Linked DNA regions of Homo sapiens: regions 1, 2 and 3 are each linked to region 4. The links come from fine-mapping of genetic effects on gene expression. A gene starts in region 4. Each other region holds a variant in brackets. All regions are shown on one strand. Distances are from middle to middle. Region 1 overlaps TRPC4AP (transient receptor potential cation channel subfamily C member 4 associated protein). Region 2 overlaps TRPC4AP (transient receptor potential cation channel subfamily C member 4 associated protein). Region 3 has its middle 8.4 kb from the start of TRPC4AP. Region 4 holds the start of EDEM2 (ER degradation enhancing alpha-mannosidase like protein 2).

Evidence for each region. PIP is the estimated chance that this variant, and not a neighbour inherited with it, causes the effect. A credible set is the group of variants that fine-mapping cannot tell apart.
Region 1: its variant is the best candidate, but not a certain one, in a credible set for the expression of EDEM2 in left ventricle (GTEx, PIP 0.87).
Region 2: its variant is the best candidate, but not a certain one, in a credible set for the expression of EDEM2 in whole blood (INTERVAL, PIP 0.67).
Region 3: its variant is the best candidate, but not a certain one, in a credible set for the expression of EDEM2 in whole blood (INTERVAL, PIP 0.54).

Annotation. Positions count from the first base shown.
Region 1 is chr20:35,004,374-35,012,481 of GRCh38, reverse strand. It overlaps TRPC4AP (transient receptor potential cation channel subfamily C member 4 associated protein), which reads left to right. Exons shown (of 19, transcript NM_015638.3): 12 at 2,194-2,295; 13 at 3,735-3,818; 14 at 4,842-4,932; 15 at 5,907-6,047; 16 at 6,679-6,787; 17 at 7,912-8,024. Among named protein-coding and RNA genes, the nearest start is that of MIR499B, 18 kb to the right of the region's middle. The variant G/AAG (reference allele first, on the strand shown) is at 4,614.
Region 2 is chr20:35,032,692-35,040,799 of GRCh38, reverse strand. TRPC4AP (transient receptor potential cation channel subfamily C member 4 associated protein) reads left to right here. Exons shown (of 19, transcript NM_015638.3): 8 at 5,492-5,677. Among named protein-coding and RNA genes, the nearest start is that of MIR499B, 46 kb to the right of the region's middle. The variant G/T (reference allele first, on the strand shown) is at 4,902.
Region 3 is chr20:35,097,201-35,105,308 of GRCh38, reverse strand. No RefSeq gene overlaps it. Among named protein-coding and RNA genes, the nearest start is that of TRPC4AP, 8.4 kb to the right of the region's middle. RefSeq lists enhancers at 2,950-3,449, 3,450-3,951. The variant T/C (reference allele first, on the strand shown) is at 3,784.
Region 4 is chr20:35,143,176-35,151,283 of GRCh38, reverse strand. It overlaps EDEM2 (ER degradation enhancing alpha-mannosidase like protein 2), which reads left to right and starts at 3,948. Exons shown (of 11, transcript NM_018217.3): 1 at 3,948-4,132; 2 at 4,349-4,459; 3 at 6,266-6,305. The coding sequence starts at 4,026. MMP24-AS1-EDEM2 (MMP24-AS1-EDEM2 readthrough) reads left to right here. Exons shown (of 15, transcript NM_001355008.2): 6 at 4,349-4,459; 7 at 6,266-6,305. The coding sequence starts at 4,365. RefSeq lists enhancers at 3,785-3,914, 4,163-4,766.

The DNA.
Region 1 (8,108 bases), 140 kb after region 4:
GACTAGCAGCTGACCCTTGACCTTGGCATTGGGGAGGTGATGTGGGGACCTTAGTGAACAAGAATTTCAGTGAGCTCAGCTCCAGCCAGCTGCGTGTGCACAGGAAACTGGGCCCACTGTTGCATAACTTCTGATTTTTTCTGCCAAGCAAAGGCAGAAATTAAGATTTATGTGAAAGGTCCTGATTTTAAATGTTGGTTTAAATATTTTAAAAACCTTGCATTTGAGCTAACAGAACATGCCTGGAGACAGCTGTGGCCCCAGGGCACCTCCATCATATGCACCCATCCTCTGTGAGAGGTTTTCCGGCTGAAAGCCATAGAAGGGCTCCAGGAAGCATGTTAACCTTCTGAAAAATGGCACCACATATGTTATGGAACTGTGCTGTTTTCCCTGAGGAAGTGAGTCTCTGGCTTTCATCAGACTCTTCAGTCTGAGTACTCTGTGGGATATCAGGATGAATGCAAACAGCCATGGCCCCTGCTCTCATGAAGGGCAGAGTCTGAAAACAGAGACAGTTGTTCATCCAAGGATTCCACCGTTGAGCATTAGTGATAAGTGGAGATGGTATTCAGGAGGAGAGGAACGGGGTCTGTGAGAGACATTTGACAGGGTCCAGGACTGGCCAGAGGACACTCAGGAACTCTCCCCTGCAGAAGTGGCTTGCCAGCCAAGACCTGAAGTGTCAGCTTGTAGTGAATTGAGTGAACAGGCATGTGAGAGGGTGTGTGTTCTAGCCAGAAGCCCCTGAACGAGGGAAGACCATTGTGGCCAGCTGATGGGAGTGATGTGGGCTTGGCTCTGGGCTGGGCTGCACAGGACGTTGTGGGTCACAGTCACAGGGTGTTGTGGGTCACAGTCACAGGCCTGGATTTTATATACAGATGGTCCACTTAGAATTTTTCAACTTCACAATGGTACAGAAGTAGAATTTTGAATTTTGATCTTTTCCTGGGCTCATGATAAACAGTTCAATACTCTTGCAATGCTGGGCACTGAGCTGCAGCTGCAGCTCAGAATGTATTTCAAGAAAAATGGTGACCAGCTACACGATCACCAAGGTAGACAACCAGTACTCTGTGCTGTGCCTGCCGTGTTGCCAGTGATTATGGCCAACTGTAGGCTGAAGTCAGTGTTCTGAGCACATTCCAGGTAGGCTAGGCTAAGCTAGGAGGTTCAGTGGGTTAGATATATTAAATGTGTTTTCTTTCTTTTTCTTTTTTTCAAGACGGAATCTTGCTCTATTGCCCAGGCTGGAGTGCAGTGGCATGATCTTGGCTCACTGCAACCTCCACCTTCTGGGTTCAAGCAATTCTACCTCAGCCTCCTGAGTAGCTAGGATTATAGGCGTGTGCCACCACGCCCAGCTAATTTTTTATATTTTTAGTAGAGATGGGGTTTCGCCACGTTGGCCAGGCTGGTCTCGAACTCCTGACCTCGTGATCCACCCGCCTGGACCTTCCAAAGTGCTGGGATTACAGACGTGAACCACCGCGCCCGGCCTCAATATGTTTTCAACTTAACGGCATTTTCAAATACGATGGGTTTATCAGGACATAACCTCCTCCTAAGTCAGGAAATGTCTGTTCTAAATGCAGTGGGAAGCTGTGGAAGTGTTTTCACCGGGAGTGACAGGATCAGAGTCCTGATTCTGAAGATCACTTTTGGCACCGTGTGATGACTCAGTTCCTGTGGGATACCTTTTAGTAAAGGGAGCTGGTGTCCTGGGAACACAGGACCCAGCAGTGACAGGCCTGGATGGCAAGTCGGGGGAAGTGTCACAGTTAACCAGGCCTCTGTGTGATGTGTGACCGTGGTGCTTGGTGGGACTGCTGCAGCAGGGCCAGGCTTGAGTGTGATTGGACCTGTTGAGGTGTTGGTGCCTTTGAGAAAACAAGTGGAAATGTAGGCAAAGAGAAAGGCCCAGAGCTGCTGAGGGAAGGGGCCTTGTCGATGAATGTGGCAGGCAGGGGTCGGGGATGGGGGTGGGGCCAGGGAGAGATTCCACTGCCTGAGAGCCCAGAGTTCCCTCCTGCAGGTGCTGGCTGGAGTGAGAGGTGCTAGAGGAAAGTGCCTGGTGGCTTCTCAGATTCTGTCCACAGGAAGTGGGCAGGAGACTCCCTACACTAGCCTGGTGCTGACCCAGCAGCCCCAGTTCCTGTCCTTTACCTCCTCCAACCCATTTTGTTTCAGGAACAAGTACTTGTTACTCAACAACCAGGAGCTGAATGAACTCAGTGCCATCTCTCTCAAGGCCAACATCCCTGAGGTGGAAGCTGTCCTCAACACCGACAGGTGAGTGCAGGGGTGCAGCTTTTCCCTCAGCCCATCCCGGCTGCCCACGTTCCCCGGGGGCTCACCGGTGAGCACATCCAGGTATGCACGCGTGTCCTCTCTCACATGCAGCTACAGTGTCCTGAGGGCTCCTGTGTGCCAGGCATTGTATTCATGTCACCTGCATTTTCTCATTGGAGCCTCACAGCAGCCCTAGGAGGGGAGCCCCATCAGTACCTGCACTTGACAGATGAGGTGAGCCTCAGAGAGGTCACCTGCCAGAAGTCATGTGTGCTCCGCACTGCCCCACCGCCTTGTCTCGTGCATTCAGCCCCTTTGCTTATGTGCTCCTTTCTTGCCTGGTGGCATCTGCAGCCAAGCAGGACAGACAGAAGCCTCTTACCTGCTGCCAAGTGTTAGGTTGCATTACCTGGGTTAGGTTTGCCTCACCTGGAGCCAGGCAGTGGGGGGCTAGTCTCACAGGCGTCAGAATACAGTGGACTTTATCCAACAAGAGCCATGATTTCCCAACCTTTTTTGTTTGTTTGTTTTGTTTTGTTTTTTAGACACAAGGTCTTGCTCTTTCTCTCAGGCTGCAGAGCAGTGGTGTTATAGCTCACTGCAGCCACAAACTTCTGAGCTCAAGTGATTCTCCTGCCTCAGCCGCCCGAGTAGCTGGGACTACAGGTGTGCGCCACCATTCCCAGCTAGTGTTTTTACTTTTTTTTTGTAGAGATGGGGTCTCACTATGTTGCCCAGGCTGGTCTCGAACTCCTGGCCTCAAGTGAGCCTCCCAAAGTCCAGGGATTACAGGTGTGAACCACCTCTCCTGGCCTCCCAATCTTTTTTTTCTAAGGTAGCAGAACTCTTCATTCAAATAAAATTGTACCCAGTCCTGCCCTGATGTCTGCAGTGGATCACAGCAGAGCTGCTCTGTTTGAAGGGCCCAGACCCCTGCGTGCCTGGCCGTCTTCCTTCCCCCATGACGGGGCCAGAGTCATTTCCTCATCTCCTGCCTTTGCTTCATAGACTGGGAAGCTGAGGCTTGGAGTTGTGGACACTTGCCCAAGGCCAGCTGGAAGTGAACCTCAGGCACGGAGTACGCTGGGCCTCACCCTATTGGCAGAGTCTTTCCCCATCTGGCAGACTGGCATGACCTGTTTCAACACACTTTTGGTATAAACAGCTCTCCTCTGGCAGTTCTAAGCCATGTCTGATTCTGGATATGTTTCTGGCCTGGGAAGGAAAGCTGGCCTGAGATGTGGTGGGAATGCACTTGGCAGTTTAATTCTGTGGCTGCAGGGGTCTCCGGGGCTCTGGACCCAGTTGGAGCAGGAAGGCATCCTGCAGACTTGGAAATGTCCCCATGGTTTTTCACCGCCTAAGCCAGCAGAATGACCCATCCCCAGGGCCCCTGTCAGCCTCTCAGATCTGTCACCAATATCTCTCTTCTATTTCAGGAGTTTGGTGTGTGATGGGAAGAGGGGCTTATTAACTCGTCTGCTGCAGGTCATGAAGAAGGAGCCAGCAGAGTCGTCTTTCAGGTGAGTCTGGGGAAAAGTACCTGCCGATTCTGCGGGGCTGCAGAGCCAGGTGTTTCTCAGGAGGTTAGGAATACCTCCTTTAGTCACCAGCGTCCATGCCTCCTGAAGCACAATTACTGTTGGGGAGAGGTGGTTTGACTGCCATCTTGTGTAGTTTTGACTCGACAGGTATGTGAGAGCTTCTTCTGCAGCCCACAGTGACCGAGCATTCACCAAGCACCTGTTCTGTGCTGGTGCCTTATGGGTGGGAGAGAACTAGGATACGGGCCCTGCCATGAATTCCCTAGAGCTGTGCTGTTTCAATGCAGTGTGGGAAGGAATGGAGCCAGGGTTGGCCCAGGAGCTATAGCAGCAAAGGAAAGCCTCTTCCGCTGCTAGGGCTGGGGGCTGGGTGAATACAGGGAGACCTTCTCTGAGGTCCTTAGATACATCTAAGATGAGTCTTGAAGTCAGTGGACAGGTAGAGTTCCATCAGGGCCGGGCGTGAGCTGTCAGGAGGCTTCATGCCCACATGGGCCTTTGTCACTTCAGTGCCTTGTCCAAACTCCCTGTCGTGGATACCCGCTGTGCCCTCTGGGTCCCTCGGTCAGCATCAACCACTACTTCCCTAGGCCAGCCCATCGTCTGTGAGCCCAGTGGCCTGTCTGCATGTGTTCGTCCGCTTCCCACACACATTCCTGGCCCCTCAATTGCACGTCCTCCCATTCTTGTGAAAGGGCAAGGCCTAGAGTATGTTTCACGGGGGCTCGCAGGAGCCAGCCCTTCGATCCCAGATGTTACCCTTTCTGTGACACA[G/AAG]CCCCTTCCAGACAGACCCAGATAGAAGACTTCTCCACTGAGCTGGCTCTCTGTGAGGATGGGGGCACTGCTGTGTCCCCAGGCCCAGGATGAAGCCTGATGCTTGGTAGATGTTCAGTAAATGTTGAGTACATGAAAAGGCAACAAACATCTCCCAACCCCTTGGAGAACTGAACATGGGCCGGAAGAGGGCAGCCTTAGCCACCTGAGCCAGTATTTGGGTCGCAGGTTTTGGCAAGCTCGGGCTGTGGAGAGTTTCCTCCGAGGGACCACCTCCTATGCAGACCAGATGTTCCTGCTGAAGCGAGGCCTCTTGGAGGTATGATCTGGAGCAGCCAGTGTCTTGGGTTCCGTCTCCCCCCAGCCCACGCGTTGCTGTGTCCTGTCCTGAGCCCCAAACAGTTCATCAGGAGCAGAGCAGATCTCGTGACTTCCAAATGCCTGTGCAGGCTGCCTTAGATTTTGCCCTGGGTTTCCAACTGTGGGTTCCCCATGGGTGCTTACGGGGTGACAGGTTTAGAGGGTGGCCAGGCCATGCAGGAGGGTGACAGTTTGGTTACCCAGCAAGGCATTTTGACCCTGAAGATATTTTGTACTAAAAGTTAATTTTCCTTTATTGAATAATGGTCTTCAGAAAAAGTAAAACTTAGAGCAGAATGGCCAAAGTTATAATTGGTCTTTCAGATTTTTTCATATGGACAAGAAACTGACCCACGAATTATAAAATCCATGTGGAAAAGAATTGATCCAAATCAATGTAACTTCAAGAAAATGTAGAAAACTTTATAAAGGAGTAAATTGGCTTTATTCTCTTGATGAAAACTCAGTATTTTGGTGTAAACTCTATTTAAACAATTTCGTTCATAAACACAAAGACAAACCATGGGGTCAAAATGTGTCCTTTGCTTTTAAATTCTGTCCTTCATTTACTTGAATGACCTCAGTGCTTAGGCAGTGGCCTGTGTTTTAGACCTGGTGATGACAGCTCCCCTCACCTAGGAGCTGAGCACCCCGGCCATCTTGGTGACCACAGAGCAGGTCACAGGCTTCAGCTGTACGCCCTGGGCAGGGGAGAGATTGTGCTGCATTCCCAGTCTGCTCCACCTCCTGGTGAGGTCTGTCAGGCCTGGTCCTGTCCTTGGAGCCACCAGCATCCTCAGACAAGAATCTAGACAGTGTTGCCAGTTCCATCCCCAGGATGCTTGCTCAAAGCCAATGCATGGTCTGAGCTCCATGCCAGGCCCTGGTGGGGGCAGCCACGTTGACACCTTCACCCTGTCCCTCCTCACCCAGCACATCCTTTACTGCATTGTGGACAGCGAGTGTAAGTCAAGGGATGTGCTCCAGAGTTACTTTGACCTCCTGGGGGAGCTGATGAAGTTCAACGTTGATGCATTCAAGAGATTCAATAAATATATCAACACCGATGCAAAGGTAAAGTTAACCCAGGGCTCTGTGGAGTGTGCTGGGTTGTCCAGAAGTTCACCTGGAGTCCTGGTCTGCCAGGCTTTAGGCACAGGTTTTACGTTAGAGACGACGGGGGAGTCTGGGCAGTCTTTGGCAAACATTCATTGGAACCTGCTCTGTCTGGCTTTGTGCTAGACCCTGGGAATGCAGGGATGAAAACCGGGGCTGCTTGTGGGTAGGGAGTGAGGGTGGGAATGGGTGGCTTGTGCGCCTGCCGTGACGCAGCATGGTGGGTGCCACGGTGGGAGCCGCTGTAGGGAGGGACTGGGCCTGGTGTGTTAGGCTCACCGAGTGTGTGTGACAGAAACCCAGCTCAGGCTAGCTGAAGTAAAATTAAAAGTAAAAATTAAAGGAATCCAGCACCCTTGAGCGTAAAACCACTGGAGAGAGTGTCGGATCTGTGCTGAATTCCGGGGAGTGCCTCTTAGTACCTGGGTGGTGAGGGGAGGTCCCTCAGCTTATCTGAGCCTCTGTCTTCCTATCTGAAGCAGTGGGGCTGGTAGAGGTCGCTGATGCCCCTTGTAGTGACTATCCCCCCGGGCCATGGCCATACCTGGCCAGCAGCCCACTGCCTGCTGTGAGCTTGGTTTCTGTATAGTTCCAGGTATTCCTGAAGCAGATCAACAGCTCCCTGGTGGACTCCAACATGCTGGTGCGCTGTGTCACTCTGTCCCTGGACCGATTTGAAAACCAGGTGGATATGAAAGGTACATGAAAGGCAGGCTGTCAAGGCAAGTCATGCAGGGTAAGAATGCTGGCATCAGACACCCTGTCTCCAGCAGGGAGACAAGAATGACTGAGGGAGCTGCACCAGATGCCCACGTGGCCGGCCTCAAGGTGGCGGCTTCCAGGGCAATTGGCTTTGCTGCCTTGTTCAACACTTTAATAAGGTGAAAATCCATTGTTGCTAGCAAGATGCAAAGAAAACCAGAAAAAGACCTTCCTCTTCTGGGCTGGTATTGCCTGGCACGATGAGTTGGCCCCCTCGTCCTCAGTGTGCTGTGCGTGGCATCGCAGGTGCCCTGTGGTGCAGCAGGCATCTGAACCCTCCTGGACTTGCTAACGCACTTCCATGTGTATGCGCACGCGTTTCCTTTTTTTCCTAGGAGAGGGCTTGTGGCATCCAGCAGATTCTCCTGAGGGTTTGTGACCCCCCCACACCCCCAAAAAGTCAGGCACTTGTTCCTTGTCACGGTCACTGTCATTGATAGCAAGAAGTATCCCGGTTGTTGGTAATTTAGCCGTTTGCTTCCTTTTTCTGCCCCAGAGGGTCTGTTTCAGGGGAACAGCCACACAGATTTTGGTACCTTCGGTTATTGCCCTGCCTCCCAGTTGTGCGGGAAGCAGTTGCTCCGACACTAGTGGACGGAGCAGAACCTGTGCCTTGTGGTCTCAGCACTGGGCCGGACTCACCTGAGAGCTGGTGTGGAAAACCAGTTGCGCTAGGACCTCTGCAGAAGGAGTGGAACTTTTGCGTTGTTTTTCTTAATGCAGCGTCATGGATCCATCTTCCTGTGGAGGGAACTCTTCTGTGTGTGATATGGAGGGCACGGGTCTGGAGCCAGTCTGGGGAGGGCTGAGGGAGAGCTGCCCTGAGCTTGGTTCTGGAGGATGAGGTGGGGTGCTCCTGGGCACTCTGAGAACATGGCTTTGCCTGGTAGCAGGACAGCTGGAGGTCCTTCTTTCTGCCACAGTCAGCTTTCGTTGAAGCTGTTTTGATGATGAGCTCCTAGCTTCAGAGTCAGGACCCAAGCGGGGCTCCACGAAAGGCCTGGGCGACCCAGCCACTGGGCCTAAGCCTGACCTGCTGCACCCCTGCCTCCCTCCACAGTTGCCGAGGTACTGTCTGAATGCCGCCTGCTCGCCTACATATCCCAGGTGCCCACGCAGATGTCCTTCCTCTTCCGCCTCATCAACATCATCCACGTGCAGACGCTGACCCAGGTGAGAGGCCCCGGCAGACACACAGCAGGGAAGGTCGATTGGAAACCACTTCCTTTGTCCTGGTGCCCAGCAGGTTTCTGTCCC
Region 2 (8,108 bases), 110 kb after region 4:
GAGTCCCATGATAAGCCATCTGCGACAAAAATTAGCTGGGCATGGTGACACGCCTGTAATCCCAACAACCTGGGAGGCTGAAGCAGGAGAATTGCTTGAACCCAGGAGGCAGAGGTTGCAGTGAGCTGAGATTGTGCCATTGCACTCCAGCCTGGGCAACGAGTGAAACTCCGTCTCCAAAAATAAATAAATAAAATAAAAGATAAGCCGTCTGCAAGCTGGAGAACCTGAGAAGCCATTAGCATGGCTCAGTCCAAGTCCGGAAAACTTAGAACCAGGAAAGCTAATGGTGTAGCTCCCCGGCTGGAGGACCCCAGAAACTGCTGGTGCAAGTCTCAGAGACCAAAAGCCAAAGATCCTGGAGTCTGATATCCAAGAGCAGTAGGAGAAAAACTTCCCACTCCAGAAGGGGGAGAATCCCTTTTTGTTTTCCTCCATCGCCTCCCACTGCTCCCCCACCAATTGGATGGTGCCTGCCCACATTGAGGGCAGATTTTCCCTTAGTTCACACACTCATACACCAATCTCTTCTGGAATCACCTTCACAGACACACCCAGAAACAGTGCTGTGCCAGCCATGTAGGCATCCCATAGTCCAGTCAAGTTGACAGCTAAAATTAACCATCACACCACCGCATTCCCTAAAGGGCCTGTTTCAAAACGCAGTCATATTTAGGGCTAGAGCTTCAACGTATGAATTTGTGGGGGCGCGGGGGGTGGGGACACAGTCCATAACTGTATGGAAAGCTGAAATATGTAGGATGTTGCCAAAAAGTTTTCGTTTCGTTTTTAATAAACTGTGGCTGTGAGGTCATTTTCTTGTCTAGCAAAAATAATGATTTACACTATCTTCCTGGGGCTCAGATAATTTACATGTAATTATCTAATGTAAATTATCTGAGCCCCAGGAAGATAGCGTAAGTCATTATTTTTTGAGATTCATTTTAAAATAAATAATTATTTTTTGAGTCCTTTTTGAGATTCTCAGAACTACCAGTTGTTCTTCTGTCGATTTAGAAGAGAACAGCTGGTTTCCTTCTGGGGGAAAGTAACGTCTTTCAAGATTCTTAGCAGAGATGTAAATGAAGCTATAGGCTAGATAATTGTCAATTTATAAGTGACACTTAGCTGAGAGGGGCTGAATTATGCAGCACATGAAGCTGGAAAGCAGGAGGGGAAACTACAGGAGTATGGGGGGAATACTGATGTTTCAACAGTGAGAAGAGAGAAGAGGCCTGCTTCTGCAGAAATTCTCAGGGGTTGTGAGTGATTTAGTTGTCAGTTTAACATTAACCAGCCAGGTGTGGTAGCTACTGATAAAGCTGTGAGAATTACAAGGACTGGATATGCTGGGATGTCAGCCCATGAGATTGTGTATGAGTTGCTAGGTATGATTGGTCCAGTGAATTTTTTTCTGGGGAGAAGGTCTTAGCTTTTATTAGCTTTTCAAGAGGTGAGTGACTCACAACAGCTCAAGAATCTCAGGTGGGAAGTCAGACTTAGAACCCTGAGTACCGGGCACTTCCCATCTGGAGGAGTGTGTTGAGTGTGCAGGAATGGGGAAGACTAGCTCCTACATGCTGTCCTGAGAGGAGCAGGTCAAGCAGCAGGAGCTATTTTTGCTGAGAACAGAAGTATAAGAGTAAAAATCCAGCTATGTGAAGATTTTCATGTAGAATACAAATTCTTTTTATTTCTTTTTTGTTTTTTTTGCTTTGTTTTATTTTGAGACACAGTCTGGCTATGTTGCCCAGGCTGGAGTGTAGTGGCACAATCTTGGCTTACTGCAACCACCACTTTCTGGTTCAAGCGATTCTCGTGCCTCAGTCTGCGAAGTAGCTGGGACTACAGGCATGCGCCACCAGGCCCGACTAATTTTTTTGTATTTTTAGTAGACATCGGTTTTGCCATATTGGCCAGGCTGGTCTTGAACTCCCAAACTCAGGTGATCCACCCACCTCGGCCTCCCAAAGTGCTGGGATTACAGGCATGGGCCACCATGCCCCGCCTACTGATTTGTTTTTAGAAAAAATAATACACACCTAAAATTTTTTTTAAATGATACAAAAAGTACAGCAGAGAGTTTGTTCCCCTCCCTGTGGTAACTTTTTACCAGTTTCTTAAACGTCCTTCGAAAAATATTCTATACATGCCCAATCATGGGACGGGGGAAGGAGGGAGGGACAGAGAGAGATTGACTCCTGTTTGTACAGATGGTAATGTAAATAGGTAATATAAAATAAGTGCTGCTCTCTTTTTATTAAACTTATCTTGCCAAAAATTACACTCTAGTATATATAGAATTATATGATTCCTTTTTGTAATTATATAATATTCTATTATACAGGCATACTGTAATTTAATTAGTCCCCCATTAATGGAAATTGGTAAGTGTTGACAAATTAACCCTCCAAAGAAATTACTTGTTCATCTTCCCCACCGTGTTGTCTGTAGCCTTTCCCAGTACAGAGCATTATCAAACTTTTTTATATTTGCCAAGCTGATATGTTAAAAAAAAAAATGGTGTCTCAAACAAAAATCTATTTCTGTGTAATTATTTTATGGAGATGGAAGTCACGTAACATAAAATTAGCCGTCTTAAAGTGAACAACTCAGCGGCATTTAGTACATTTACAGTGTTGTGCAGCTACCACCTCTATCTAGTTGCACGTTTTCATCACCCCAAAAGGAAACGCCGTACACATTAAGCAGCTTCTTCCCATTACCCCTTCTCCCCAACTGCTGGCAACCACCATTCTGCTTTTTTCTCTGTGGATTTACCTATTCAGATTACTTCATATACAGTCATGTTGTCACTTAGCAGTCTCTATCCTTCTGAGAAATGCAGTGAGGTGATTTTGTCATTGTGTGAATGTCATAGAGTGTACTTGCACAAACCTAGCTGGTATAGCCCATGATACACTTAGGCTGCAAACCTGTACAGCATGTTTCTGTACTAAATACAGTAGGCAGTTGTACCATAATGGTAAGTATTTGTGTATCTAAACATAGAAAAAAGGTATAGTAAAAATACAGTATTATAATCTGATGGCACCACCGTCTTCTGTGTGGTCGTTGTTGACCGCAACAGCGTTAATGCAGTGCATAACTGTAAATGGAATCATATAGCATGTGGCCTTCTGAATCTGGTTTCTTTCACTTGGCATAATGTTTTTGTGGTTCATTAATGTTGTAGCATGTCAGTACTTCATTCCTTTATATGGCTGAATAATACTCATCATGTAGATACCACAGTTTGTTTATCCCTTCAGTTAATGGACATTTGGGATATTTTCATCTTTTGGCTGTTGGGAATAGTGCTGCTATGAACATGTGTGTACACATATTTGTGTGTGCACCTGTTTTCAATTCTTTTGGGTATATATGTAGGAGTGAAATTGCTGGGTCATATGGTAATTTTATGTTTGACTTTTTTTTTTTTTTTTTTTTTTTGAGACAGAGTCTCGCTCTTTCGCCCAGGCCGGAGTGCAGTGGCGCGATCTCCGCTCACTGCAAGCTCTGCCTCCTGGGTTCACGCCATTCTCCTGCCTTAGCCTCCCAAGTAGCTGGGACTACAGGCGCCTGCCACCGCGCCCAGCTAATTTTTTGTACTTCTTAGTAGAGATGGGGTTTCACCGTGTTAGCCAGGATGGTCTCGATCTCCTGACCTTGTGATCCACCCGCCTCGGCCTCCCAAAGTGCTGGGATTACAGGCGTGAGCCACCGTGCCTGGCCAACTTTTTGAGGAACCTCAATGTAGTTTTATTTTATAACTAAGGTCAAACATCATCTTATAGCCACTCACTAATTATGGGAGGGGTGTGTGTGTGTGTGTGTGTTTGTGTGCGCACGCGTTGAGACAGAGTATCACTCTTGCCCAGGCTGGAGTACAGTGGTGCAGTCTCAGCTCACTGCAACCTCTGCATCCCAGGTTCAAGCAATTCTCATGCCTCAGCCTCCTGAGTAGCTGGGACTACAGGCGCACGATACCACGCCTGGCTAATTTTTGTATTATTGGTAGAGATGGAGTTCGCCATGTTGACCAGGCTGGTCTTAAACTCCTAGCTTCAAGTGATCCACCCACCTTGGCCTCCCAAAGTGCTAGGATTACAGGCATGAGCCACCGTGCCTGGCCAGCTTGTCTTACTTTATCTCTACTCCCATTCACTATACCCTACTTCACCTTGGGTTATTTTGAAGTAAACCCCAGACATCGTATAATTTCACCTGCATATATTTCAGTGTTTCTACATGATAACGACTTTTAAGAAACGTAACTGCCACTGTATCAAAAATTAATAGTAATCCCTTGATATCCTGAAATATCTAGTTATTTATTAATTTTTAATTAGGTGTAACATTCACATGGTTCCAAAAAATCTGCGGATTCAAAAAGGTATTTATTGAAAAGTTTCAGTTCCACTGTTACTCTCAGTGACCTAAATCCCCTTTTCCACTTGACGGACATTTTGGCTGTTTCCATCTTATGGCTGTTTACTGTGGCAGCCACTGCTCTTGGCTTCTTTTCTGTCCTTCCAGGGAGACTTAATGCATATACAGGCAAACATGATCAGGCATTAGTCTCATTTTAAAGAAGGTTAAATGATGGAGTCAGGATTTGAATCTGGATCTCCCTGCCTCCAAAGTTTATGATGTTCTAATATGCCGATCAGAATTTCCACCTCACTCATTGTGAATAAAATGAGATTGGTGGAAAGAAAAATTGGGTGATTATTCAGTTTTTTTCTTTACCTTAAAAAAATGTTTATCTTTCATCCTGCTAGTAAATGTTACAGGAAAATTAGAAACTATAGATGAGTAATTTTAAGAGAATTGTTTGTATTCTCTCCTGCTTAGGAACAGCCACAGTAAATTCCTTGGTATATATGCTTTCATTCCTT[G/T]TGTATTTTGAAGAAGCAAATATTTAAATTTTTGAAGAAAATTAAATTCATATTGTTTAATAATTTACTCTCTAACAAGTAAACAGCTGTTTTGAGTCACTATATAAAGATGTATGTGTCATCATTCTTAGTGTCTATGCAGTATTCCATTGTATAAATGTGTCATTGTATTTAATTAATCAGCTGTTGATGAACATTTAGTTACCTTCACCTTTTTGCTGTTACAGAAACCACATCAGTGAACCTCCTTATACAGATATTCTCGTGTAATATGACTGGTTATTTCGTTATGGTAAATTCCCAGAAATTGACCTCTTGGCTCAAAGACACACACATTTAAGGCATAAAGATTATTCTAATTTATATTCCCAGTAGATAAAAAGCCTGTTTCCCTGTACCTGCTAAAAACTGAGCTTATGCCTGTAACATAATTACTATTTACCTTGGTTTGACATTCATTTTAAAAGAGTAGCTTTAGCTACTATCAGAGTAAGAATTATTCCTATCATGCAGATTGTTTGTTAGGGCTTTAGGGGTAGTTTTGCTGGTCTCTATTTTGAAAATTTCCTCGCTTGTTCTTTCCCTGGCAGCGGCCCTTCTCAGCATTCCTGGCTTTGTTGAGCGGCTTTGCAAACTGGCGACTCGAAAGGTGTCAGAGTCAACGGGCACAGCCAGCTTCCTTCAGGAGTTGGAAGAGTGGTACACATGGCTAGACAATGCTTTGGTGCTAGATGCCCTGATGCGAGTGGCCAATGAGGAGTCAGAGCACAATCAAGGTATGGAAGGATGGGTCCCCTGAGTGATCGGGAGCTTTTCCTTGGGCGCCTGGGACCATTCTTGCTCTTCTTTCCAAGAAGGATTAATTTGAGATTTGCTCAGAGTAGAATTGTCCTCAAGGCAATTCTAGACCATGACTATTAAGACTCTTTTGACAGCTTGTTACAGAAACTTCATTGAACTCCCCAAAGTGGACCTGATTTCAGGGAGAAGGGCTTTGTTGCAGACCTGAGACAGCTGTGTCTCAGGGACTAACAAGAACCAGTAACCAGAGCATTCTTAGGAACCTAGAAACTTCTCTCCTCGTCTCTTTTTCTTTCTACAGTGTTTCTTAGTCTTCTCTCTCACTGTACCCTACCTTTTCCTGGTCCCCTTGATGGGACTAGGCAGAAGACTGCCTATTAAATAAGAAGACTCCCAGTCTCAGCTCCAGCTTCCTGGTAAAGAACTCTGGCCCATCTTTGGTTAGGTGCCCAGCCTTAAAGCATTTGACTCTGGCCAGCAGGTTCAGAATATACAAACCCAGGAATTCTCAGCTCCCAAACAAGGAATAGGTTTCTCATTGGGAGTGGGGGGCCATCAGCTTTTCTTCTTCCCTCCAGCTCCAAATTGAAGAGACTAAGTTCTCGGTGAGTATGGCAAAGAGGTCAGAGGCTTCCTTCCTCCACCCAGCTCCATACTGTACTCACGGTGTGGAAGCTCTATCCCACATACTTGAGGCCAAGAATTCTATGGCTCTGATCACCTTTGCCCTAGCTTGCTCATGTACAGAGGTTTTACACTGGGAGAGGCAAGCCCGGAAGACTAGAGGCTACTGACCCTGCTCTGAGAATTTGCCCACAGAGAGAGGCAGTTAATAAGAACAGAGTCCAGGGAAGTTCATGCCTGAGGAGATTTTGATGGTAAGCAAATAAAAAGAGGTACCTCTTCTTTTTTTTTACTCTTTTTTTTTTTTTTTTTTTTTTTTTTTGAGACGGAGTCTCGCTCTGTCGCCCAGGTCGGACTGCGGACTGCAGTGGCGCAATCTCGGCTCACTGCAAGCTCCGCTTCCCGGGTTCACGCCATTCTCCTGCCTCAGCCTCCCGAGTAGCTGGGACTACAGGCGCCCGCCACCGCGCCCGGCTAATTTTTTGTATTTTTAGTAGAGACGGGGTTTCACCTTGTTAGCCAGGATGGTCTCGATCTCCTGACCTCATGATCCACCCGCCTCGGCCTCCCAAAGTGCTGGGATTACAGGCGTGAGCCACCGCGCCCGGCCTTTACTCTTTTATTTTTTATATTTTCTCTTTTTTGAATAGAGACGGGTTTTGCCATGTTGGTCAGGCTGGTCTCAAACTCCTGGCCTCAAGTGATCCACCCTCCTTGGCCTCCCAGAGTGCCAGGTTTATAGGCATGAGCCACTGTGCCTGGCCAGGTACCCTCTTCTTAATTAAGAACAGGGTGATCTACAGGCCAGCTAGTTCACCAGAGAACCAGGGAAGGAGACAGCTGAGAAGAACTCTCCCAAGGTCAGAACAAAGCTCAATTTCAAAAATTACCCCTTCCTGAATTTAATTGAATTAGACTTTGGAGCAGTGTATACTCCAGGGCATTATCAAAAACAGTCGAGAATTCAGTCAGCAGTTAGTAGAGCCTAACAGCTGGATGTGATACCAGAAGAGGTAGAAAGCTTAACAGAGAGATCATGGAAAGAGCTAGTCAAAGACAGCCTGGCTCAATGTCATCCCAGGGAGACTCTGTACATGCCCAAGGTTGCACTCTCTGAGGCACAACATGAAAATCTTCACCAGTCTTTGGGGAAGGAGACTTTACGAAAATAGTCTAACCAAGTCACTAAACTAATAAATAAGCAAATAACAACAACAAACCCTGAAGGAGGGGGAATCAGTATCCAGAGTTGCTACAGTATATTACTTAAAATGTCCTTTTTTGAGATGGAGTCTCTTGTCGCCCAGGTTGGAGGGCAGTGGCACAATCTCGGCTCACTGCAACCTCTGTCTCCCATGTTCAAGCAGTTCTCTCTCAGCCTCCCGAGTAGCTGGGGTTACAGGTGCATGCCACCACACCCGGCTAATTTTTTGTATTTTAGTAGAGAAAGGATTTTACCTAGTTGCTGGTATTGAACTCCTGAGCTCAGGCAATCCACCCACCTTGGCCTCCCAAAGTGCTAGGATTACAGGCGTGAGCTACCACACCCAGCCTAAAATGTCCAGTTTTTAACAAAAATTGAGACATACACACAAAAAACAGGAAGTGTAACCTATACACAAGAAAAAGCAGGCAACAGAAATTTCCTGTGAAAGGGTCCAGATACCAGATTTAACAGCAGCCATTAAAAATATGATCAAAGGGCTGGGCGCGTTGGCTCACACCTGTAATCCCAGCACTTTGGGAGGCTGAGGCGGGCGGATCACGAGGTCAGGAGATCGA
Region 3 (8,108 bases), 46 kb after region 4:
ACCAATGCATTATAATGATGTTCTTGCAAATGAGAACTTAAAACCATCAAAACTTAAAAGATGCTTGGAAACATGACATGTTGAATTAGTCAGTCTCTCGAATATTTCCAAAGAAAGAAAAACATATATAATGTGATAGGCAAATTTTATGATTCATGTTGTGACTGTCAGTGAGAAAGCCTTATTATCATTGTATTGGGTTGCATATTATGTGCCAAAAGAAAAAAATTGCTCACATGGTTCCTGAAAAAAACATTTATTCTCTGGCATGTATTTTGGTGTGTATAGTTTTTATGGTGTAGCAAGCCATAAAAACATACCTTAGCAATAATAGAGTTTCTCCTTGAATCTATACTGTTGCGGAATGTTGGAAACAATGCTTATTATGCTGTTACAATCTCGTATAGATTTTGTAATCCAACCAGAGAAAGTCAAATTGAAAGTTGCACAACACTTAGCTTATATCTTACATGAGTGGTAAGAACATTTTAAGGAGGGTCTTCTTGTTTGGTTAATCTTCTCTCACAAAACTGGATTAAAAGCATTCAGAGAATTGACAATTGTAACTTTGGCCAATACAGATTAGTCCAGACAAATATAAAGACATTGTATGAGAGTAGCAAATATGAATGAAAATATAATACAGTTATTATAAAATTGTTAGAAGAATCTGAAAGCAATGCTATTTGGAATACTCTTTTATATGCTGTAAATCTTAGGAAAACAAAGGGATCCTGCTAAAATTCATATATATGTTGGGGGAAAAACAGTGATAATCAACTTCTTGAAAACAAATTTTCAGGGATTACAGCTGACCACATCATTTACTTTAGCATATTGAAATTGGCCAATCATATCAATGTTGGCCAATCTAACCAAGATTTTTTTTTTTACATCCTTAGAGAATTAAATTAGAAGTTGTTCCAACATACTGAGCCTGTCCAAGCATTCCAAATAACATTACTTCTATGGCAAGCAAGATTTCAAAATAGTATGTGCCACTGGGTCAGTGATTGTCAAAAGTGGTCCCTGGTGCAGAGGCAACAGCATTACCAAGGATCTTGTTGTATTTAAAACTCTTGGGCCCCATCCCTGACCACAGATGGGCCCCCAATCTGGTTTAACAAAGCCAACCCCTCCAGGTGATTCTAATGCAAGCTCAAGACTGAGAACAAGGGTACTAGATGTTCCCAACATTGCTGCAACAAATTGATGCAATTTTATTAATGAAAGCAGTTTGTATTAATCCAATCTCACGCTGCCAATAAAGACATACTCAAAACTGGGTAATTGATAAAGGAAAGAGGTTTAATTGACTCACAGTTCCGCATAGCTGGGGAAGCCTCAGGAAACTTATGATCATGGTGGAAGGGGAAGCAAACAAGGTCTTCTTCACCTGGCAGCAGCAAGAAGTGAAGCGCGAATGGGGGGAAAAGCCCCTTCTAAAATCATCAGATTTTGTGAGAACTAACTCATGATCAGAATAGCATGGGGGTAACTGCCCGCATGATTCAATTACCTCCCACCCGGTCCCTCCCACAACATGTGGGGATTATGGGAACTACAATTCAAAATGAGATTCGGGTGGGGACACAGGCAAACTGTATCACGGTTTGAACTGAATGAAATGAAATTAGAGATATTTTTGCACCTTATCTCCTATGTTGGTGTCAATGTTATGTTGCTTTCATGTCGGTTGGTGACCTTTTTTCCTGGCCTTTGGAAGAAATTATGTGATGTTGGCATTATTTCTTCCTTAAAAGTGTGGTAGATTTCAAAGGCATTAGGGATTGGAGTTTTCTTTGTGGGAACCTTTTAAATTAGAGATGAAATGTCTTTAATAGTTATAGGATGATTCCAATTTTCTATTATGTTTTGTGTCCATTTAGGTAAGACTTTTTTCTAGAAATATTTCTGTTCCACTTAAATTTTCAAATACATAGGCATAAAGTTATTCATCATGTCTTCTTATGATCTTTTGGTGCTGAAGAATCTGAAATGATATTCCCTTTTCAAATTTCTGACATTAATTTCTGGTTGGAATCTCTTCTTTTTATTCATGGAGTCTGTTCTGATTTGATCGATTGTTTTCTAGGATTACAGCACAACACTCAATCTGGGATTTCTTTTCTATCTGCACCTGCGGATCACAAGGTCAGGAGCTTGTGATCCTGACCAACATGGTGAAACCCTGTCTCTACCAAAAATACAAAAATTAGCTGGGCATGGCATGGTGGCACACGCCTGTAATCCCAGCTACTCGGGAAGCTGAGGCAGGAGAATCGCTTGAACCAGGGAGTTGGAGGTTGCAGCGAGCTGAGATCATGCCACTGCACTCCAGCCTGGCGACAGAGTGAGATTCTGTCTCAAAAAAAAAAAAGATATTAATTATCCACTTATTCATCAAGCTCTGCTCAGAGGGCTTTGGGTTGTATATAAGACAATGCTAATTTGTCACCTGTGAGGAGCTTCCAAAGAATATAGTACAGATTCAGAGGCAGTGGGTTTTAGATTTTGTTTTTCTTTTTGAAACATATTTTTGGGTTAGATGCAGTGGCTCACGCCTGCAATCCCAATGTTTTGAAAGGCAGAGGTGAGGGGATTGCTGGAGGCCAGGAGTTTGAGACAAGCCTGGGCAACATAGTGAGAACCTGTCTCTACAATAATATGTTTTTAAAAATGTTTGTGTGGGTTGGAGCTCTGATGGTAATTGCTTATGTGTCTGCCTTCCTCCACTAGACTTGAGCCCTAGAAGGCACAGGCTGCATTTGTCTTATTCACAGATGTATCCCCCACGCCTGGGGCAGAGCTTGTACATAGGAAGTTTTCAAGAAATATCTGGTGAATGAATGTAATTCAGTGACTACATGCCTTTATTTACAATAGTATGTATTCTAGTGTGCTGTGATAATTTGTTAGTTTATGAAATCTCTATTTTATGCATCTTTGTTAAGATGACATGTATCAAACACTTAGTACAATGTCCGGAACATACATGGTAGGTATTTTCTTTTTCTTTTTGAGACGGGGTCTCGTTCTGTTGCCCAGGCTGGACTGTGCAATCTCTGCTCACTGCAGCCTTGGCCCCCAGGGCTCAAGCAGTTCTCCCACCTCAGCCTCCCAACTAGCTGGGACCACAGGCATGCACCACCATGCCAGGCTAATTAAAAAATATATATATATTTGTAAAGATGAGGTCTCACTATGTTGCCCAGGCTTGTGTCCAACTCCTGGGCTCATGTGACCCTCCTGCCTTGGCCTCCCAAAATGCTGGGATTTCACGTGTGAGCCACCACATGGGGCCTAGGTCTTTTTTAAATGTTAATTTTCTTATTTTCTTCCCTTTGCATTTCTTTGCATCTAGCACAATCTCTAATACATAGTAGGCGTTCAGTGATTTAGAGATCACTGTAAACAATCCAAGAACCACTGGCAAAATGTGTGTGTGTGTGCATGCACGTGTGTCTGCCTGTGTGTCCGCACGCACACGTGTGTGTCTGCCTGTGTGTCTGCGCATGCACGTGTGTGTCTGCCTGTGTGTCGGATGCATGCATCATTTGGGGAAAGAAGTTTCAACTTTATGTCATAAGAGTCTTCAGTGTTGCTGAAGAATGGCTGTTGTAGATTAAGGAGTGACTAGCTTTGGGAATGAGGTAAGAATCTACATCTGTGGAGATTGGAACAAAAATTTAGAGAGACTATTTTCTGAACTCAGAACCGATCATAGTGTTGGACAAGTTTAAGTCCCACAGGGCCCATTTAAAATTAAGATTGTCCCAAAGA[T/C]GACACAGGAATTAATTTGAGAGGACTACCAATGGTCAAATTTGGGACAATTTGAGCATCAAAAAGAATGAGAAATACACACACACAGAATTTTTTTTCTTTTTTTTTGAGACAGAGTTTTGTTCTTGTCCTTCCTTCCGGGTGTGCAGCAGGACCCTCTCTGGAATGGGGGTCTTATGACCTACAGTCAAACCAGGTAGGTTGGATAATTTCTTGATGGCCAGTTTATGCACAGAAAGGTGTGGTGGTTTAGGGGGAGGGAGTTAGAGTAATATTTTTAGGTTTGGTTTCACCGCTGGCAAGGGGAAGGAGGAAGGTTTCTGGTTTCTTTTTTTTTTTTTTTTTTTTTTTGAGATGGAGTTTTGCTCTAGTGCCCAGGCTGGAGTGCAGTGTCACAATCTTGGCTCACTGCAACCTCCGCCTCCCACATTCAAGCGATTCTCCTGCCTCAGTCTCCAGAGTATCTGGGATTACAGGCATGTACCACCACACCTGGCTAATTTTGTATTTTTAGTAGAGATGGGGTTTCACCATGTTGGCCAGGCTGGTCTCGAACTCCTAACCTCAGGTGATCCGCCTGCATCGACCTCCCAAAGTGCTGGGATTACAGGAGTGAGCCACTGCGCCCTGCCAGTTTCTGGTTTCTAAACCCTGCCTTGGGGAAGAGGGATTCTAGTTTCTATGACTAGCCTCAGGGGAGAATAAGAGGCCAGAGACAGAAGGGCAGGAGACGGTCAGAGAGAGCTGCTTCTGAAGCCTTTATCTTAGGGTATCATCTTCTTTTTTATTTTTTCAGAGACAGGGTCTCACACTGTCACCCAGGTTGGAGTGCAGTGGTGGGATCATAGCTCACTACAGACCCCAACTCCTGGGCTCAAGCAGTCCTCTCACCTCAGCCTCCCAAGTAGCTAGAACTACAAGTGTGTGCCACCAAGCCCAGCTCATTTTAAAATTTTTTGTAGAGACTCCTGGTTTCAAGCGATTCTTGTACCTCAGCTTTCCAAAGTGCTGGAATTCTAGGTGTGAGGCACTGCACCCGGCCCTGGACTATCATTTCCTGAGACGGTACACTTCCCAGCAGTAAAAAGGAATGAACCACTGACATGCAGATCAACATGGATGAATCTAGAAAACATCATCCTTAGTGAAAAAAGCTAAACACAAAAGACTATATATTAGATGGTTCCATTTATAGGAAGTTATGGAACAGTCAAAATTAATCTATGATGATAAAATTAGAACAGTGGAGAGGTACATTTTTCTCCTTTGGAGTTAGTAAGTAACAAGTGCATGAGAACTTTCTGGAGTAATGGAAATTTCTATATCCATTGGGAGTATTGGTTAAATTCAGGTGTTGGTTACACAAGTATATACATATGTCAAAATTCATCAGATTACATATTACCTAATATCTATGCATTTCATTTTATGTAAATGATACCCTAATAAAACCAAGGGAAAATAGAATAACCATAGTAATGGATTATAACACATAAAATAAAAAAAAGTTTATGAGTCCATAGTGATACCCCAGAAAAAGGGCGGGAGCTCCTTTTGGGGGGGAATATTACCTAATAAAAGAGGAAGCAATGGTAGAATTAGAAAGTTACAATTTTGCAACCACCAGCATGATAATCCAGGGAGGGATCATCAAGGGATGATAAAAACTACTGGGTTGGCCAGGTGTGGTGGCTCACACCTGTAATCCTAGCACTTTGGGAGGCCAAGGTGGGTGGATCACGAGGTCAGGAGATCGAGACCATCCTGGCTAACATGGTGAAACCCCGTCTCTACTAAAAATACAAAAAAAACCCAAAACAAAACAAAAAAAACTACTGGGTGGGGGCTGGGCGCGGTGGCTCACGCCTGTAATCCCAGTACTTTCGGAAGCCAAGGCGGGTGGATCACCTGAGGTTGGGAGTTCCAGACCAGCCTGGCCAAAATGGTGAAACCCCATCTCTACTAAAAAAAAAAAAAAAAAAAAAAGCAAAACTTGCAATGTGAAGTGGCTCGTGCCTGTAGTCCCAGCTACTCGGGAGGGAGGCTGAGGCAAGAGAAGAAGAACAGAAGGTTGCAGTGAGCCGAGATTGCGCCACTGCACTCCAGCCTGGGCAACAGAGCGAGACTTCATCTCAAAACAAACAAACACAAACATTACTGGGTGAAAGGTGGGTGGAGAACAAGACAGTCTCGTAGTCTTGAAGGCCACAGATTACTTATTAACCCCAAAATGTATGTTTCCAATGAAGACATATTAAGTTTGATCCAACAGATCAAACTTAGCATCATCAATAATGGGACACATTTACATTATTTCTTTCTGATATGAAGCAATGGGAAAGACACACCATCACCTGTTTAATATTCTAGCCATAAAAGCTTAATCCTAACCAAATCATGAGAAAACAATAAAGCAGATCCAGATGTCAGGGTATTCAGTACAACTGGCCCGGACCCCAAAACTGTCAATATCCCGAAAGGACAAAAGAGATGAGGGACTCTTCTAGATTAAAAGACAGTGACAAGACATAGCTTTCAAATGTATGCATGATCCTTTACTGAACTCTGGACTGGGGGGAAGAGACTGTAAGGGACATTTGGGGGGTAATTGCAGATATTTGAATATGGATTATAAGATAAATAATGGCCAGGCATGGTGGCTCATGCCTGTAATCCCAGCAGTTTGAGAGGCCAAGGTGGGCAGATCACTTGAGGTCAGGAGTTCGAGACCAGCCTGGCCAACATGGTGAAACCCCATCTCTACTAAAAATACAAAAGTCAGCTGGGTGTGGTGGTGGGTGCCTGTAATCTCAGCTACTCGTGAGGCTGAGGCAAGAGAATCGCTTGAACCTGGGAGGCAGAGGTTGTGGTAAGCCGAGATCACACCACTGTGTTCCAGCCTGGGCTACAAAGCAAGACTCCATGTCAAAAAAGAAAAAAAGCCTGGGCATGGTGGTTCATGCCTGTAATCCCAGCACTTTGGGAGGCCAAAGCAGGCGGATCACCTGAGGTCAGGAGTTTGAGACCAGCCTGACCAACATGGAGAAACCCCATCTCTACTGAAAATACAAAATTAGCCAGGTGTGGTGGCGCATGCCTGTAATCCCAGCTACTTGGGAGGCTGAGGTAGAACAATAGCTTGAACCCAGGAGGCAGAGGTTGTGGTGAGCTGAGATTGTGCCATTGCACTCCAGCCTGGGCAAAAAGAGTGAAACCCTGTCTTAAATAAATAAATTTAAAAAAAGATAAATTGTATCAATATTAAATTTCTTGGGTGTGATGGTATCATAGTTTTTAGGAGCATGTCCTTGATCTTAGGAGATACATTCTAAAATATGCAGGTGAAGTGTCATAATATCTACAATTTACTTTCAAATGGTTTAGCAAAAAATGGCTTAGCAGGATGGGTGCAGTGGCTCACATCTGTAATCCCAACACTTTGAGAGGCTGAGATGGGAGGATCCCTTGAGCCCAGGAGCCCAAGGCTACAGTGAGCTATGATCGTGCCACTGCACTCCAGCCTGGGCAACAGAGCGAGACCCTGTCTAAAAAAAAAAAAATGTTTAGCAAAACTAACACAAACCCTCTCTACGTATAAATGAAGTATAGAGAGAGATACATATATGGAAAGAGCTGTATATATACATATATGTATATATACATATATGTATGTGTATATATGTATATATACACATATATATGTATGTATATGTATATATACACATATGTACGTATATGTATATATGTGTATGTATATATACACATATGTATATATGTATATATACACATATATGTATATATGTATATAGGCACACATGTATATATGTATATAGGCACACGTGTATATATGTATATATACACACGTGTGTATATGTATATATACACACGTGTGTATATGTATATATACACACGTGTGTATATGTATATATACACACGTGTGTATATGTATATATACACACGTGTGTACATATGTATATATACACACGTGTGTACATATGTATATATACACACGTGTGTACATATGTATATATACACACGTGTGTACATATGTATATATACACACGTGTGTACATATGTATATATACACACGTGTGTACATATGTATATATACACACGTGTGTACATATGTATATGTATATACACACGTGTGTATATATGTATATGTATATACACACGTGTGTATATATGTATATGTATATATACACGTGTGTATATATGTATATGTATATATACACATATATGTACATATGTGTATATATGTATATGTATATATACACATATATGTACATATATGTGTATATATACACAGAGAGAAAGATAAAATA
Region 4 (8,108 bases):
GAAATTTGTGCAGTCGATGTGTGTTGAATTCTGTTTTCTGATTTTTTGCAATAACTGTATGGATCTGTTAATATTTTCCTTGTGCTGAGAGATAGTCTCACTCTTTCATCTTCCAGATATGGAAACTGAGTCCCCAAAAGGGAAAATGACTTGCCCGAGATCACACAGAGATAGTGGATAAACAAGTAACAAGACCAAGGGTTTCCGACAACCAGTCCAAGTCTTGTTCCACTGAACACAGAGTCCGAGGACATTGGCCTCAGATACTGATGTGATCTGAGCTCCCTCCAAACTCTATTCACCCACAGGGAAGACTTGAACACCCTATGATTCCAAGTATTCTCCAATTGACATCTTCCCCTTCTAACAAAATTGCAAGCACTTCAAGGGAAAGGACTATGACTTGATTATTTTGGAATCTTAGTTATATGCTCAGCACTGTGCCTCAAACTTTTGAGGGTAGGAACTATTGCCTATAACACCTTGGATGACTCGGGGCAGATGCTCAGTAAATGGAAACAACTGCCCTGCCTTAAAAAAAAAAGAAGAGTTGGGGAGGCAGGGAAGAGAATTAATATGTATCAAGAATTTAATATATACCAGTCACTGTGCTGAGAATGTTCACTTTCATTATCCCATTTAATTCCCAGAATTCCTTTATGGCCTCATCAATTTCTGTATTTTACAATAGGAAATTGAGTCTCAGAGAGGTAGGCAACTTACCCTGAGTCTCTTCACAAGTAAATGCTCAAGTGTGACACTTCACTGGTGGGTCATAACCTTCTAGAATCCAATATCATAAACACAGAGTGAGAGAAAGAAGAGTCCTGATACTTTCCAGAGGGTAAAACAATTTTTTTATTCTCATTAGAGAACATATAGTCACATGAATTGTGAAAACGTAAGTCATGGTTTTATTTGTTCAGTGACAGTGTGGAGAATGACATCAAGCTAGAAAAAGAATATAAAGGAAAATCATGAGTGTTTCAATCTTGCTCATAAAGAGAGACCTATCGTTACCAAATCCAGGCAACCTGAACCCACCCTTCCTGCAAAAGTTTTATCCACACTAGAATTTTGAATGGGAGACAAAAAGATAAGCTATAGGATTTATAATATGGAGAAGGTGAATTTCGTCACAGGGAAAGGCCCAGGTCTGAAAAATATTTAGTCCCTGCGCTAGGCTGGAAACAGCCACCTAAAGTCCAGGTCCTAATCTCTGGAAACTGTAAATGTTTCTCTATTTGGAAAAATGGTGTTTTTTTTTTTTTTTCCCCCTAGATGTGATTAAGTTAAAAATCTTGGAATGGGAGTTTATCCTGTATTATCTGGGTTGGGGGGGGCGCGGGGGGGGTCCTAAATGCAATTATAAATGTCCTTATAAGAGAAAAGCAGAAGGAGATGTGACACATCCACAGAGAAGGCGATATGAAGGCACGGGCAGATACTGGAGTGATACAACCATAAGCCAAGGAATGCCAGCAGTCAGGAGAATCTAGAGAGGCAAGGAACGGATTATCCCTTAGAGCCTTTGGAGTGGGTGTGGCCCTGTCAATAACTTAATTTTAGCCCAGTGAAATTGATTTCAGGCTCCTGACCTCCCAAACTGCGAGAGAATAAATTTCTGTTGCTTTAAGCCACTTGGTTTGTGGTAATTTGTTGCAGGAATCACAGGAAACGAATACAGTGCTCCTGTGTTGTTATCCAGGTCTCAGCTTACTGTCATCTCCTTTCCCTTCCATTTGGAAGCCCCAAGAAGAGTTTCTTTTTTTTTTTTTTTTTTGAGACAGAGTATCGCTCTGTCTCCCAGGCTGGAGTGCAGTGGCCTGATCTTGATCTTGGCTCACTACAACCTCCACCTCCCGGGTTCAAGCGATTCTCCTGCCTCAGCCTCCTGAGTAGCTGGGACTACAGGCGTCTGCCACCACTCCCGGCCAATTTTTGTATTTTTAGTAGAGACAGGGTTTCACCATATTGGCCAGGTTGGTCTTGAACTCCTGACCTCGTGATCCGCCCGCCTTGGCCTCCCAAAGTGCTGGGATTACAGGCGTGAGCCACTGCACCCGGCCAAGAAGAGTTTCTAAAAACATCCCAGGCTGGGTACAGTGGCTTATGCCTGTAATCCCAGCACTTTGGGAGGCCTGGCTGCACTCTGGCTCAACAAACTGAGCTATCACTTCCATCTGACTTTTTCAGCAAATAAGAGATAGCCAATCCTAGAATCATAGAAAGCTCGACCGAAAAGGATCTTAAAGATCCATTTGTTCAAACTCCTCATTATTTATAGACAAGGATGCTAGCCCCAGAGAAGGAGAGGGTCACATACACAGGTTATAGATGAGTGACAGAGTTGTAATTAACTGGATCCTAGATCTGACTTCAAATCCAGTGTTGGTTCTACCGCATGTCACACTGACCAAAGTCATGGGTGTTGCTGTGGTCTAAGGTGCTGACCAAATTTTAGAAACTTGGGAATAAGGGGAATGGAGAAATGGATCACAAACCTCCTGAAAGCTATAGTGCCCCAGGGTAGTCATTTGTCTTTTTTTTTTTTTTTTTTTTTTTTTTTTTGATATGGAGTTTTGCTGTTTTGCCCAGGCTGGAGTGGAGTGGCGCGATCCTCGCTCACTGCAACCTCCGCCTTCCGGTTTCAAGCGATTCTCCGGCCTCAGCCTTCCGAGTAGCCGGGATTTACAGGCACCCGCCACCACCCCTGGCTAATTTTTGTATTTTTAGTAAAGACGGGGTTTCACCATGTTGGCCAGGTTGGTCTCTATCTCTTAACCTCAGGTGATCCACGCACCTCAACCTCCCAAAGTGTTGGGATTACAGGCGTGAGCCACCGCGCCCAACCAGGGTATTCATTCTTACCCAAGACATTCTACAGGGCTGACAGGGGTAAAGCTTCCGGTTTGAGATGGAGACTGAAGGGACCATGATTGTGTAACCACATCCCAAATTGGGAGGAGAGAAGTGTCATGAATTCCTAGAACTGACGGGATTTCAGGAAACCTCAAGAGTGACAGCATCGGAAAATGCAAGAGGTTTTAAAAAAAAAAGAGTGGAAGTTTTGGACAAATAAATGTGAGTTGTGTCTTATACAATCAACAAGTAACTGGTTTGGGAAACTCAATATCCCTAAATAAGGGAGCAGACCACCCCTCATATTGTCTTATGCCCAATTTCTGCCTCAAAGAAAATGTAGGAGTTAAAAGAAAGACAGAAGTGAAATCAGTAGTCAGACAGCCCGGCGATGCATTCCAGGCCTGGTAATTAAAGATCGACCCCTCCTGACCTAACCGGTTATATTATCTATAGATTCCAGACATTGTATGGAAAAGCATTGTGAAAATCCCTGTCCTGTTCTGTTCCGTTCTGATTACCGGTGCACCGGTAATCAGTCACGTACCCCCTGCTTGCTCAATCAATCACGACCCTCTCACGCGGACCCCCTTAGAGTTGTAAGCTCTTAAAAGGGACAGGAATTGCTCACTCGGGGAGCTCCGTTTTTGAGAAGTGAGTCAGCTGACGCTCCCGGCCGAATAAAGCTCCTTCCTTCTTTAACCCGGTGTCTGAGGAGTTTTGTCTGCGGCTTGTCCTGCTAGGTAATAATGGTAAAGGCTGAACATTTCTCATGCTTACCCTGCCTTCATACTTAATAAGGTTGTTGAAAAAAATGAATGAGAGAATGCATTTTAAATGCTCCGTACAGTACTAGTACACAATAAGTGCTCAATACATGCTAGCTGTTATTATTAAAACATTAATTAATAACAGTAGTAACAACAGCCACTGACTTTAAGACACGTTGATCAGTGTTGCCGAAACCGTACATCCGAAGTTGCTCTTCGGCCGCGTTTCGCTGCCCATTGCATTCAGGGGCTTGTAGTCCGGAAGTGAGAGGCTGATTTCTCAGCGCGCAGGCGCAGTGGCGCGGATTCCCGGAAGAACCCGCAGCAGCTCCCAGGATGAACTGGTTGCAGTGGCTGCTGCTGCTGCGGGGGCGCTGAGAGGACACGAGCTCTATGCCTTTCCGGCTGCTCATCCCGCTCGGCCTCCTGTGCGCGCTGCTGCCTCAGCACCATGGTGCGCCAGGTCCCGACGGCTCCGCGCCAGATCCCGCCCACTACAGGTGAACTGTGACCCGCCCTTTCGCAGTTGGGGAATGGGAAGCGTGAACCCGGTCCTTTCCCTTTCCGTCCATCCCAGACCCCGACTTGCTCCGACACAGCCGCTAGGTCCCAGGGAGAAATCAGCTAGTGATTCCCACTTTCCGCCCTGTATCTTGTTCTTCCCCCGCTTGTTTTTGTGTTCTTGCCCCATGCCTGATTTCTCGTCCCCCACCCAGGGAGCGAGTCAAGGCCATGTTCTACCACGCCTACGACAGCTACCTGGAGAATGCCTTTCCCTTCGATGAGCTGCGACCTCTCACCTGTGACGGGCACGACACCTGGGGCAGGTAGTGCGAGCGGAGGGGCAAGGGGCGGCCAGGGTCTGACTCTCTGGGCCTCGGCGGGCGGGTCAGCTGGGGCTGGTGGCTTCATGGTCTCCTCACCGGCACCAGAAAGCTCCCAGCTGAGCTAGAGCCGCGCTCCCCGCAATTCTTACTATCACCTCCAGGATCCACTTAGCCTCTCGCAGTGAAAAAAAAAGTCCTGGATTAGCCGGGTGGGCTGGATCGCTGAGCTCAGCCCCAGCAGTAACAGGCATCAGCTGTGGGGACATAGGCAATTTCTGGAGTAACGAGATACCGTGGAAGGGCTCCAAGAATTAGAAAACCCACCCCTTTCATTATGTAGGTGGGCATTCAGATCCAGGAAGGAGTGTGACACTCCTAAAACTTAAGTCTTTGTAGTTGGTGTGCCCCGTGCCTGAAATACACTCCCCATTTTCCTCCCATCACTGGCTGCTGCTTGTCATTCAGATCTCAGCTCAGTATCTTAATACCCCTACGAGTTAGGTGCCATTATCCCTGTTTTACACACGAATGTGCTAAGGTCGGGAGAAATTAAACTCAAAACTTGTGATGGTTTTTATTTTTTTAAGTTGAAACAAAGTAAATACAAATGGCAAATTCAAGTGGTAAAAGATTATATACAATAAATATCTCCCATACCCTAGAATTCCAACTATTAACTTTCCTTTGTATCTGTCCAGAAATATTCTTGGTTTATACCATTATATATATAGATGTGTGTATGTGTATCTTTTTAAAATGAACTTCTTAAAGGCATAATTTACATATAATAAAATACACTCTTTTTTTTTTTTTTTTTTTTTTGAGATGGAGTTTCGCTCTTGTTACCCAGGCTGGAGTGCAATGGCGTGATCTTGGCTCACTTCAAACTCCGCCTCCTGGCTTCAAGCGATTCTCCTGCCTCAGCCTCCCAAGTAGTTGGGATTACAGGAGCCCACCACCACACCCGGCTAATTTTTTTGTGGAGACGGGGTTTTGTCATTTGGCCAGGCTGGTCTTGAACTCCTGACCTCAGGTGATCCACCCACCTAGGCCTCCCAAAGTGCTGGCGGATTACAGGCATGAGCCACTGTGCCCAGCCTACACTCGTTTGAAGTGACCACCATCACAGTCAAGATATGAAACACTTCTGTCACTTTAAAAAGTTCCCTTGTGGCCCTTTATAGTTCATCCCTGCACCACCACTGACCCTAACAATTGCTGTCTGCTTTCTGTCAGCATGTCTTTTTGAAACAGATGGAAACATACTAAACCACCCTGACTTTTTCATTAAAAACAATTCGAATGTCTTTCCATCAGCACATAGAAGTCTTGATAACAATCTTTTTGATAACTCATAGTTTTGCACTGTTTATAACACAGTTTAATCACCCATTAATGGGTGGACAGTTGGGTTCTTTCCAGCCTCTTGCTGTTCTAAGCAATACTGCCATGAACACTCTCAAACAGCTGTTCACTGTGAATTAAATTCCTAGAGGTGAAAATTGGTGAAAGGCCTGTGCTTTAAGCTGCAATCTTATACTGCCTCCCAATGGTAGAGGAGAATGCCAGACTATAGGTGATGTATTTAATTACAATTGAGCTACATCAGCCAACCCTCCCAGGTGCATTAAGTGGGTCAGAGAATACCTGCGATTTTCACTGTGGTTTCTCTGTTGTGACTGTAAGTGGGACAGGCAGAGGCATTACTTTGCCTCATTTAGTTTTAGGGGGATCAGATCTAGGGCAGCCATAATATCTGGTATTTGATTTTCTTACTAAGCGGCTGGGATTTCTGTCCTTTTGCAGTTTTTCTCTGACTCTAATTGATGCACTGGACACCTTGCTGGTAAGTATCTCGTCTGTTTCTTTTCCTTTCCACTGTTACATAACCAACATCCTTCCTCTTTTGGCAGCGTGACTGTGGGTGAAAAATGAATTCCTCTCCTAGGCCTTTTATTTGCATCTCATGATTCTGAAGCGTCCGGCTGTGGTTGCCTAGCTAGATAGGGGAAAAACGAACTACAACTTATGCAGATTCATTTATTTAGCAAACATTTATAGAGGACCTGTTATGTACGGAGAATTGTGATAGGCTTGCATAGCTCTATGGGGGATACAGAGACTTTGACATCTCCTGTTTTCAGAGGCTTACATTCTAGTGGCCATGTTCAATGATAATAAAAGGGTATCAGGCTGAGCATGGTGGCTCACACCTGTAATCCCAGCACTTTGGAAGGCCGAGGCAGGCAGATCACCTGAGGTCAGGGGTTTGAGACCAGCCTGGCCAATATGGTGAAACTCCATCTCTATTAAAATACAAAAAATTAGCCCAGCATAGTGGCACATGTCTGTTATCCCAGCTACTGGAGAGGCTGAGGCAGGAGAATTGCCTGAACCCGGGAGGCGGAGGTTGCAGTGAGCCGAGATTGCACCATTGCACTCCAGCCTGGGTGACAAGAGTGAAACTTCATCTCAAAAAAAATTATAAAGAAATAATATCAGTGACTAGTTAGTATGTTTCTGTAGGGCTTAGTACAGACATGTATTAATTCTTCTAACAACTTCTTGAGGTTAGTACCTTTACTCCTTCTTATCGTTAAGAAACCTGATGCTTAGGGATGGGCACAGTGGCTCACGCCTGTAATCCCAGCACTTTGGGAGGCCAAGGCGGCAGGACTGCTTGAGCACAGGAGTTCAAGACCAGCCTGGGCAATATGGTGAAACCCCGTCTCTACCAAAAATATAAAAAATTAGGCATGATGGCACATGTCTGTGGCTCCATTTGTTAGGGAGGAGGGTGAGGTAGGAGGATTGTTTGAGTCAGGGAGGCAGAGGTTGCAGTGAGCCGAGATCGCACCACTGCACTCTGGTCTGGGTAACAGAGTAAAACCCTGTCTCACACAAACAAAAAAAAGATATAAAAGAAACCTGATGCTTAGAAAGGTAAAAAGGGCCAGGTGTGGTGGCTCATGCCTGTAATCCCAGCACTTTGGGAGGCCAACATTGCTCAAGTCCCAGAGTTCGAGGCTGTGATGAGCTATGATCACACCACTGCACTCCAACCTGTGTAACAGAGCAAGACCCTGTCTCAAAAAAAAGACTTGGACTGGTTCAGGTCAAGTACCCACTCCACAGCTAGAGGGATGGGATCAGCCTCTCCCAAACCACAGGAGTGACTGCCGGGGAAGAGTGATTCCTCGAGGGTAAATTGAGATGTTACTATCAAAAGAAGAGAGATTGAGATTGCATTTGGCTAACGGTTTAAATAAAGAGGGTTTATTTTCTCAAGTAAAAGAAAGTCTAGAGGTAATTTCTAGCATTGGGTCAGCTACGCAACTGTGTCATTAGAGACCAGCCTCTTTGTAGCTTTGCATTCTAGTATCGTTAGTGTTTTGGCTTTTATTCTAATGCTTAGTACGTCATGGTCTCACATAGCTGCCATCACTTCAGAAATCGAGTCTGAGTTCAAGGCAGAAAGAGAGAGACTAAAAGCCATGTTAGCTGTGTTTGTCCCTTGGTATTAAGAAAACAGAAGCCTTCCCAGAAGTGCCCCCAGTAGACCTCTCAAGGGTCAGAATTGACTGGGTAACACAATCAACTGCAGCAGCAAAGGAGGCCGAGAAAGCTTCTGGATTTCCAACCTCTGGTG